Homo sapiens: one gene and its partner. The protein of the gene in region 2 interacts with the protein of the main gene of each other region in a biochemical or structural test. Each region holds a gene or a part of one and is shown on either strand. Other genes may lie near its edges.

What was found. The genes of interacting proteins can lie anywhere in the genome.
Region 1: the proteins of LNPEP (region 2) and TNKS2 form a complex in vitro, tested with the Homo sapiens proteins (4 studies listed by BioGRID and IntAct, with this or other methods).

What each region holds. Positions count from the first base shown.
Region 1 is NC_000010.11:91,836,381-91,840,130, forward strand, and holds part of TNKS2 (poly [ADP-ribose] polymerase tankyrase-2), read left to right. Parts: exon of another isoform or gene 1-273; coding exon of another isoform or gene 274-504; intron 505-538; coding exon 539-618; intron 619-3,750. UniProt on the Homo sapiens protein: Poly-ADP-ribosyltransferase involved in various processes such as Wnt signaling pathway, telomere length and vesicle trafficking.
Region 2 is NC_000005.10:96,974,078-96,977,827, reverse strand, and holds part of LNPEP (leucyl-cystinyl aminopeptidase), read right to left. Parts: intron 1-3,750. UniProt on the Homo sapiens protein: Release of an N-terminal amino acid, cleaves before cysteine, leucine as well as other amino acids. Degrades peptide hormones such as oxytocin, vasopressin and angiotensin III, and plays a role in maintaining homeostasis during pregnancy.

The sequences.
Region 1 (3,750 bases), on a different chromosome or scaffold from region 2:
TGCAAGGTAGATGTTTTCCTTTTCTGACACTTTAAATGAGCTGTAAACTTAGAATTTCAGACCTGGAAATGATGTTACATTTCTACTAGTCTACCTTATGTCTTTAGAACTGAAAAAATCTGAGAACCAGGAAGTTCCAGTGACTTGTTCCAGTTCAGATAGCTAATTAATGACAGAACCACAGTTAGATTTCTGTTTGCTCTCTTAATTTAATACTTTTGCACCATTCCAATGGCTTGCTTATAGAGCAGGCCATCTTTAGTCATCTCCTTTATGTTCCTTTATATTGCTTACATCACATTTTATAATCATTATACACATTTACATATTTTGCTTATATGTGTTGTATTTCAAAGAGTTTTAAGAGAATCTTATTTTTCACTCCCCAACCCTCACCCCCCTTACTACCATGGAGATCTCGTACATAATCTACCAAATTGTAAAAGAACTTTGCTTTCTGATGAGATGCCTTCCATAAAGCTTGGTTCCATCTTCCAAATAGAGGTTAGTCACTCTTCTCTCTCTCTCTCTTTTTTAGAGGGTATCTCATTAGGTAATTCAGAGGCAGACAGACAATTGCTGGAAGCTGCAAAGGCTGGAGATGTCGAAACTGTAAAAGTAAGATACAGTGTTACGTTTCTGTTAACTTTGGGTTTTTATTTTGACATTGTTATTTAATCTGTACTGTTACAATGAAGAGCCTGGTTTATTTGTATGGGCCTTGCCTTAAAAGGTCAATAATACAATCTTAATTGTTCTCTACAAATGAGTAGCTTTAAGTAATGAAAGAGAAAGACTTCACTTTCACCTGCATCCCAGTGAATATTACATTCACAAATATAAATAAATTCGGGTAATACCAAATGGGTTTTGCTTGAAGAACCTATTCATTTGTCCCTTTAACAGAATAAAGTTTATCAAATTATTTTATATTACTGTTTACGTATGACACATAAAACAAGAAAGGGGAAAAACAGTGTATCACTTCTGTCTATAGATTTCTTCTGATTTCTTCATTTCTTCACCCCATCTACCTCTAGGGATCCAGGGCTTAGTATAATAATAAATACAATGTTGCCACTTCTCTTTCCCAGGGCTTGCAACTTCAGGTCTTACCTGTTTCTCCGACAAGAGTCTTCCCCAGAGTAACCCTTCTTACTGTTTTGACTCTTGCTGTAGAAATATGTATGTAAAACTGGGCCCAGTGGCTCACACCTGTCGGTAATCCCAGCACTTCGTGAGGCTGAGGCGGGTGGATCACCTGAGGTTAGGAGTTTCAGACCAGCCTGGCCAACATGGCGAAACCCCGTCTCTACTAAAGACACAAAAATTAGCTGGGCGTAGTGGGATGCACCTGTAATCCCAGGTACTTGGGAGGCTGAGACAGTATAGACATCTCAGATAACTTCAGATTTGTTTTCTAAATTCATTTCTCACAGAAAAATGCAACTATCATGCAGTTTTATTATTTGACATGTTTTTATTTTGATCCTCATTATTCTCATTCCCTTAAGTAGGAGGCTAATAGGATATCGAAAGGAGGATTTTGTTTCTATTACTACTGACTTGTGGAAATACAAATTACTTCAGTTAAAAGGTTGTGAACTGATTTTTTTTTCAGGAAACATGAAAATTGAGTTGAAAGCAATTAGCTGATTTTTTTTTTTTTTTTTTTTTTTTTTTTGCTGTTTGTGGGAAGGGAGAGATACAGAATTGTAAATGCTCATTCTCTTACATATATTAAAGAACATAAAACTATATTTAGTAAACATGTTAAAGACTAAACTTTGTTTTTATAAAGATAGAGGGAGTCCAGAGGAGGGGATAGATAAAGAGGAGATGAAGTTGGGGGGCAGGAAATGGACTTAGGGAACACAGTAATGCCATTGGATTCAGGAAAACCTGTGCTAGGCATCAGGCTTTCTTCCCTCCCCTCTGCTTTTAAAATCACTTGATGGACATTTATCTCCATCAGCCATTCTTCTTATCTACCTCCAGACAGATGGCTCTGTACGAATCACTGGGACAAGAACATCTGCGTATTACCTAATGAACACTTAACTATTGTGCTCAGTTGTGTTTGTTCACTGATAATCCACCAGGCTGGATACTTTATTCGACACATGCTATTAGAAAACCTATCTCAGAGTGGACAAAATTAAACTGACAGGTAAAGAGTAGAATGGCCTGTGATAACTACCAAACCAAGCAGCACCTGGTACACGTGTTAAAAATAGTCATTTCTAGGAACCTGACTTGAGACCCACTGAAATACCATCTCTTGAATGGGGCCCTGAATCTGTATATCTAGCCAGATCTTATTTGGGAAGCACAGAAGAGCTTTTTACCAGGACAATGATTAAACCCCTTGAGGTAAACCCACTGATAGTAGGCTCCTTTATTTTATTGAGCTTAGGTTATCCCTGTTTTGGGAGTAGGTTAGTAAAAAGGGGGAAAGAGTTTTTACTAATATGGATATATTCTTTTTGTTTGTTTGTTTGTTTGAGATGGAGTTTCACTCTTGTTGCCCAGGCTGGAGTGCAATTGCACGATCTCGGCTCACAGCAACCTCCACCTCCCGGGTTCAAGCAATTCTCTTTCCTCAGCCTCCCGAGTAGCTGGCATTACAGGCGCCCGCCACCACGCCCAGATAATTTTTTGTATTTTTAGTAGAGACGGTTTCACCATGTTGGCCAGGCTGGTCTCGAACTCCTGACCTCAGGTGATCCACCCGCCTGGCCTCCCAACGTGCTGGGATTACAGGCGTGAGCCACCGTGCCCGGCCTAAGATAGATATATTCTTTTGACTCTTTAAGCACTCTGATTTATTATCTATGTTGCTTTTCTTCCCCAAACTTTCATACTTTTCATAACTACACTTCCTCCTCTGAACCAAAGAGCACAGAAAATTGACTGTTTTCTTAATTCTCCCCAGGACTGTATAAACCATCAGCATTTTTTTTTCCTTTTTTCTTTTTTGGAGATGGAGTCTGGGTTGGTCACCCACGCTGGAGTGTGATGGCACGATCTCAACTCACTGCAACGTCTGCCTCCCAGGTTCAAGCGATTCTCCTGCTTGACCCTCCCAAGTAGTAGAGACAGGGTTTTGCCATGTTGGCCAGGATGGTCTCAAACTCCTGACCTCAAGTGATCTGCCCGCCTCAGCCTCCCAAAGTGCTGTGATTACAGGCATGAGCCACCACGTTCAGCCTAACCATCAGCATTCTATTAGTTATTTCATTCCACATGGAGTGGTATGGTTACTGAACCACCAGCATCAGCATCACCCAAGAACTTGTTAGAAGTGGAGATTTTTAGGCTCCACACCAGTTACACTGAAAATTTGAGGGTTGGACCCAATGCACATTAAAGTTTGAGAACCACTGCTCTAAAGGAGTACTTTTCAAACTTTAATGTGTTTCCATATTACCTAGGGATCTTGTTAAAGGGCAAATTCTGACTCAGTAGATAGAGATCTGAGATTCTGAATTCTTAATAAGCTCCTTGGTAATGCTGGTACTACCGTAATCTCATGTACCTCTATGTATATTTGCCACAAAATGCAAGTTACACTTGCTGATGATTGGCACTTAGTTTACCTGTATATATATATAGTAGCGGTAATGATAAAATTTACCCTTGAGCGTTAGAAAAAGTAGAATATAAAGGCATACGTGAGACCAGGCACGGTGGCTCACACTTGTAATCCTAGCATTTGGAAGGCCAAGGTGGGAGGATCCCTTGAGGCCA
Region 2 (3,750 bases):
ACCTGGCAATGAAGTTGCTAAGAGTATTATTTCACCATCAGGAGAGCAAAGCTTACAAAAAACTACTGAATATCTAGCTTAAGATAAATGCTATGTATTTTGTGCTATTCAACAAACACTGTAATGGTGGAAACTCTTCATCCATAAAACATATTATTGATAAATATTAGGATAAAATTTGCAGTTTTGCTGTTCAGTGTGGCCTGTGACCCTGCAGCATTTGCATCACATTGCAGCTTGTTAGAAACGCAGCCTCTGAAGTCTCCACCTAGAATACGAATTTTAACAAATCCTCGGGTGCTCACGTGCACTTAAGTTTGAGAGGCACTGGTATAAGCATCTTCCATGGTCAGATCCCAGCCAGCACTAAATACCATTCCTGAGTATGCTCTGGCCATCCCAAACTGCTTACTATTTTGAGCACAGGCCAGGCAGCTATTCCACGCTATCCTCCACATGTCTCTTTTTCTTTTCTCTTCCCTCTGCTTGCAGTGTCATCATCTCCCTTTCCCATGCCCATCCACCTGGTATTCCGTACCTCAGCTTAACTTGCTACAACACAAATTAAGAAAAGTTATGTTTTTTTGTTTTTCCTTTGTCTTTATTACCTTTAAAAAATAAACTTTCTTTTCATTTCACTTCACCCATTTCTGCTTTGGGGAGCATATGGATCACAATGAGGTTACCTTTTCCTGACTCCTCTCCAACCTGAACTGTATACAAGTTATGCTACTTTAAAATTTTTATTTGAATAAAACTTCTAATCATTTTCTAGGTATGAGTTTAGCATTCTGCCATCTACCCATCTACTATGAAAGAAGAAGGGTTCTAACATACTGCTTTTGGGAATATAATCTCCTAAACTTCCTATAGTGCCCCAATTTCTTGTTAAAAAAAAAAAGTATGTTCTGTTTTGATAGTTAATAGTGTTTTGGGTCATACACTTCATTAACAGAGCAAATATTGCTGTATTCAATTTTTTAAAATTGCTTTTAAAACTCTTAATGATTAGAAAGTTTCTGTAGTAGTTTTTTGGTTCCTGGCACACTGCTGTAGACTAGCTTAATTTTTTTTTTTAATTTAAAAATGTCTAAAAAGGCCTTTTTTGACTTTTTTACCACACATGGGAAGATTATGCTCTCAGGCATTTGCCCCATGTGTTTTGTTCTGTGTCAGGCCTACTGCAGACAACAATGGGTTCTGTACAGCATGGTTTTATTTACTATATTTCTGAACTAACTCCAGGTACAATCTCAGCTTAATATTTAGAGCATTCCAATCTCTCAATTCTGTCCCCTTAGAACTTTGTTGCTGTGTTTTTTTATTCTTCTGCCATGCCATTTAAAGCCAAGAGATATTCTACAGTTTGACAATTTGGTATCTCCTGTCTGCATGTCATTAATTTCAAATCTTCTGACAAGGGCTTAGTCAGATGCCTGCCTAAATCCAAATAACTTACTTTTATTATTTCACTCCCAGTCAGAATAATACCAACGTAGAATTTTAATCTTTCAGAAATGGAGATCACATCAACCCATTTGCTATATTTCACTGTGCAATATAGAAGCACAGTTTTTTTTTTGTATGCACAATCATATCAAGTTAAATATATCAAATCAGGGAAAATCACTTTTATTACAGGTATCCCATGAAGATACATGAAGGTACTTCAAGCCTATTTAAGAAAATGTTGATTTGATTCTTAAGTCAGTACACTTTGATTTTGGCATTAAATTGTAACATAACACATGATTACCCCTTGCTCGATGGGATTTATTCCTACTGAAAGAAGGGATCCTAAAGAAACAGGGAATTTTCTAAAACCTCTTAAATCCACATATAGAAGCTATCTATAAGTCAAAGCAAAGAACCTTCTACTGAAATGTTTCAGTTTTAAATAACATAGGCCCATGTGGTTATAATCTAAGAGAACTGAAGACATTTCTTTTCATCAGATACTGTGAACTAGCATTCCTCAATGTTGTTTGTGGACCAGTGCCAATGTGCAAAAGTGTGACCCATCTGGGACAGGATATACATAGACTATTAGTACCCAAAAACTTTTATGACAATTTGACAGAGTAATTTTTATGTGTATTGAATTTAATAATGTATAAAACTGAGCTATTTTTGTATGTCTTTTTTCATTTCATTTTTCTAATTAATTTTTTTATATGCTACAAAATTTCTGCAACAGATTAAAAATTAAAAAAACAGAAACAATAAACCCTGGTTCTTCAGCTCAGATAATGTGAGAAGCAGTGAGTTAGACTGTCACTATAATGGCAATAACAGTCAAGATAAAGTTCTTAACTATGTCAGTAGCAGTGAGAATAAAGAGGAGGGTATGATTACAAGTCACGTCAAAAAGGTAGATGCACAAGAACTGATACTACCTCGGGCTAGATGGACCTGCAGGGTAGGAGACAGAGAAAAGTCTATGTCAATTCCCTTTACATTCCAACTTGTATAACTGAAAAGAAGGAATGTCATTCACTGAGATTGAGAATATAGTCTTTCACATTTTCTAATTTTTTTTGAGGCAAGGAAGGAGAACAGGATTATGAGATGGCATTCAGTGTAGGATATATCTGTCAGATAACCAGGTGGAGATGTTTGATTAATAGAGTTAAAGGCCTGATTTTAGGTAGACGTTAAAATCCTGGCTTTTCCACTGACTTCAAACAGGTTACCTTTCTTAGCCTCAATTTCCTCACCTATAAATGTGGGAAACAGTGCTATTTTGTAGAATTGTTAAAAGGATTATGTTACGTGGGTTTAGAGCTCAAGAGAGTGATCTGGGTGGAAGATTCAGGTTTCCGAATCACCTGTGCAGATATGGTCATTAAAACCATGCAGATAAATGAGACTATCGAAAGGGAGACTCAGGGAGGATCAGCATTTAAGAGCTGGGTGGCCAGAGGAAGAAGGTCAGCAAAGGAGAAGAAATGGACCAAAGGTAGGAAAATCAGGAGTGGCATCCCAGAAACCTAAAGCTTTCATAAAGATGAAAGTGGCCAGCATTAAATATTTTAGAAAGGTCAAGTAAAATGAGGCCTAGAGAGACCCTTACATTTGGTAACCAGGGAACCAGTGACTTTAATAGTGAGAGTAGAAGCCTGATTCCAGGGGCCCAAAGAAGAAATGGAAAGTTAACAAAAGAAAACAAGGACTGCAGACTATTCTTTGAAGGTATGTAGTAGTTTATCAAGGAAAAAACATAGGGATAAACTAAAGGAAAATGTGGTATAGACAAAACTTAAATCCTTTTGTTTTTCATTTGTCTGTGTTTAAGATGGGAACAACTTGGGCATGTATTTCTGCAGGAAAGGAACAGTAAAGAAAGACAAAATGTGGAGGTGAAGGAGTAGGGGAGGGAAAATGCTGGCGTAGCATCCAGAGGGACAGGGAGAGTGTACAAGAAAATGATGGGAGCTAGGTGCTCTCCCTCCAAGCCTGGAGGACAGGAGGTAAAGACAGAGAAGAGGCATGTGCATGGGCACAAAACAGCAGAGAGCCTTCATGTTCTCTGTGACAAGTGCAAGCAAAGACATCTGCCCAGAGCTAAAGGCAAGTTGTTGGGAAGGCATAGGGGCTTGAGCAGAATGAGGGACAGGTGCCATAGGAGAGGGCCAAGGAGTGGTGACCCCAAGACAAGCATGACTGAGAAGGTCAGAAACCCCAGTGGAATTTGTCATACCACAAATCTCTAAAAAACATCTTCAGCACTTCTTACCAGCCCAGGTCTAA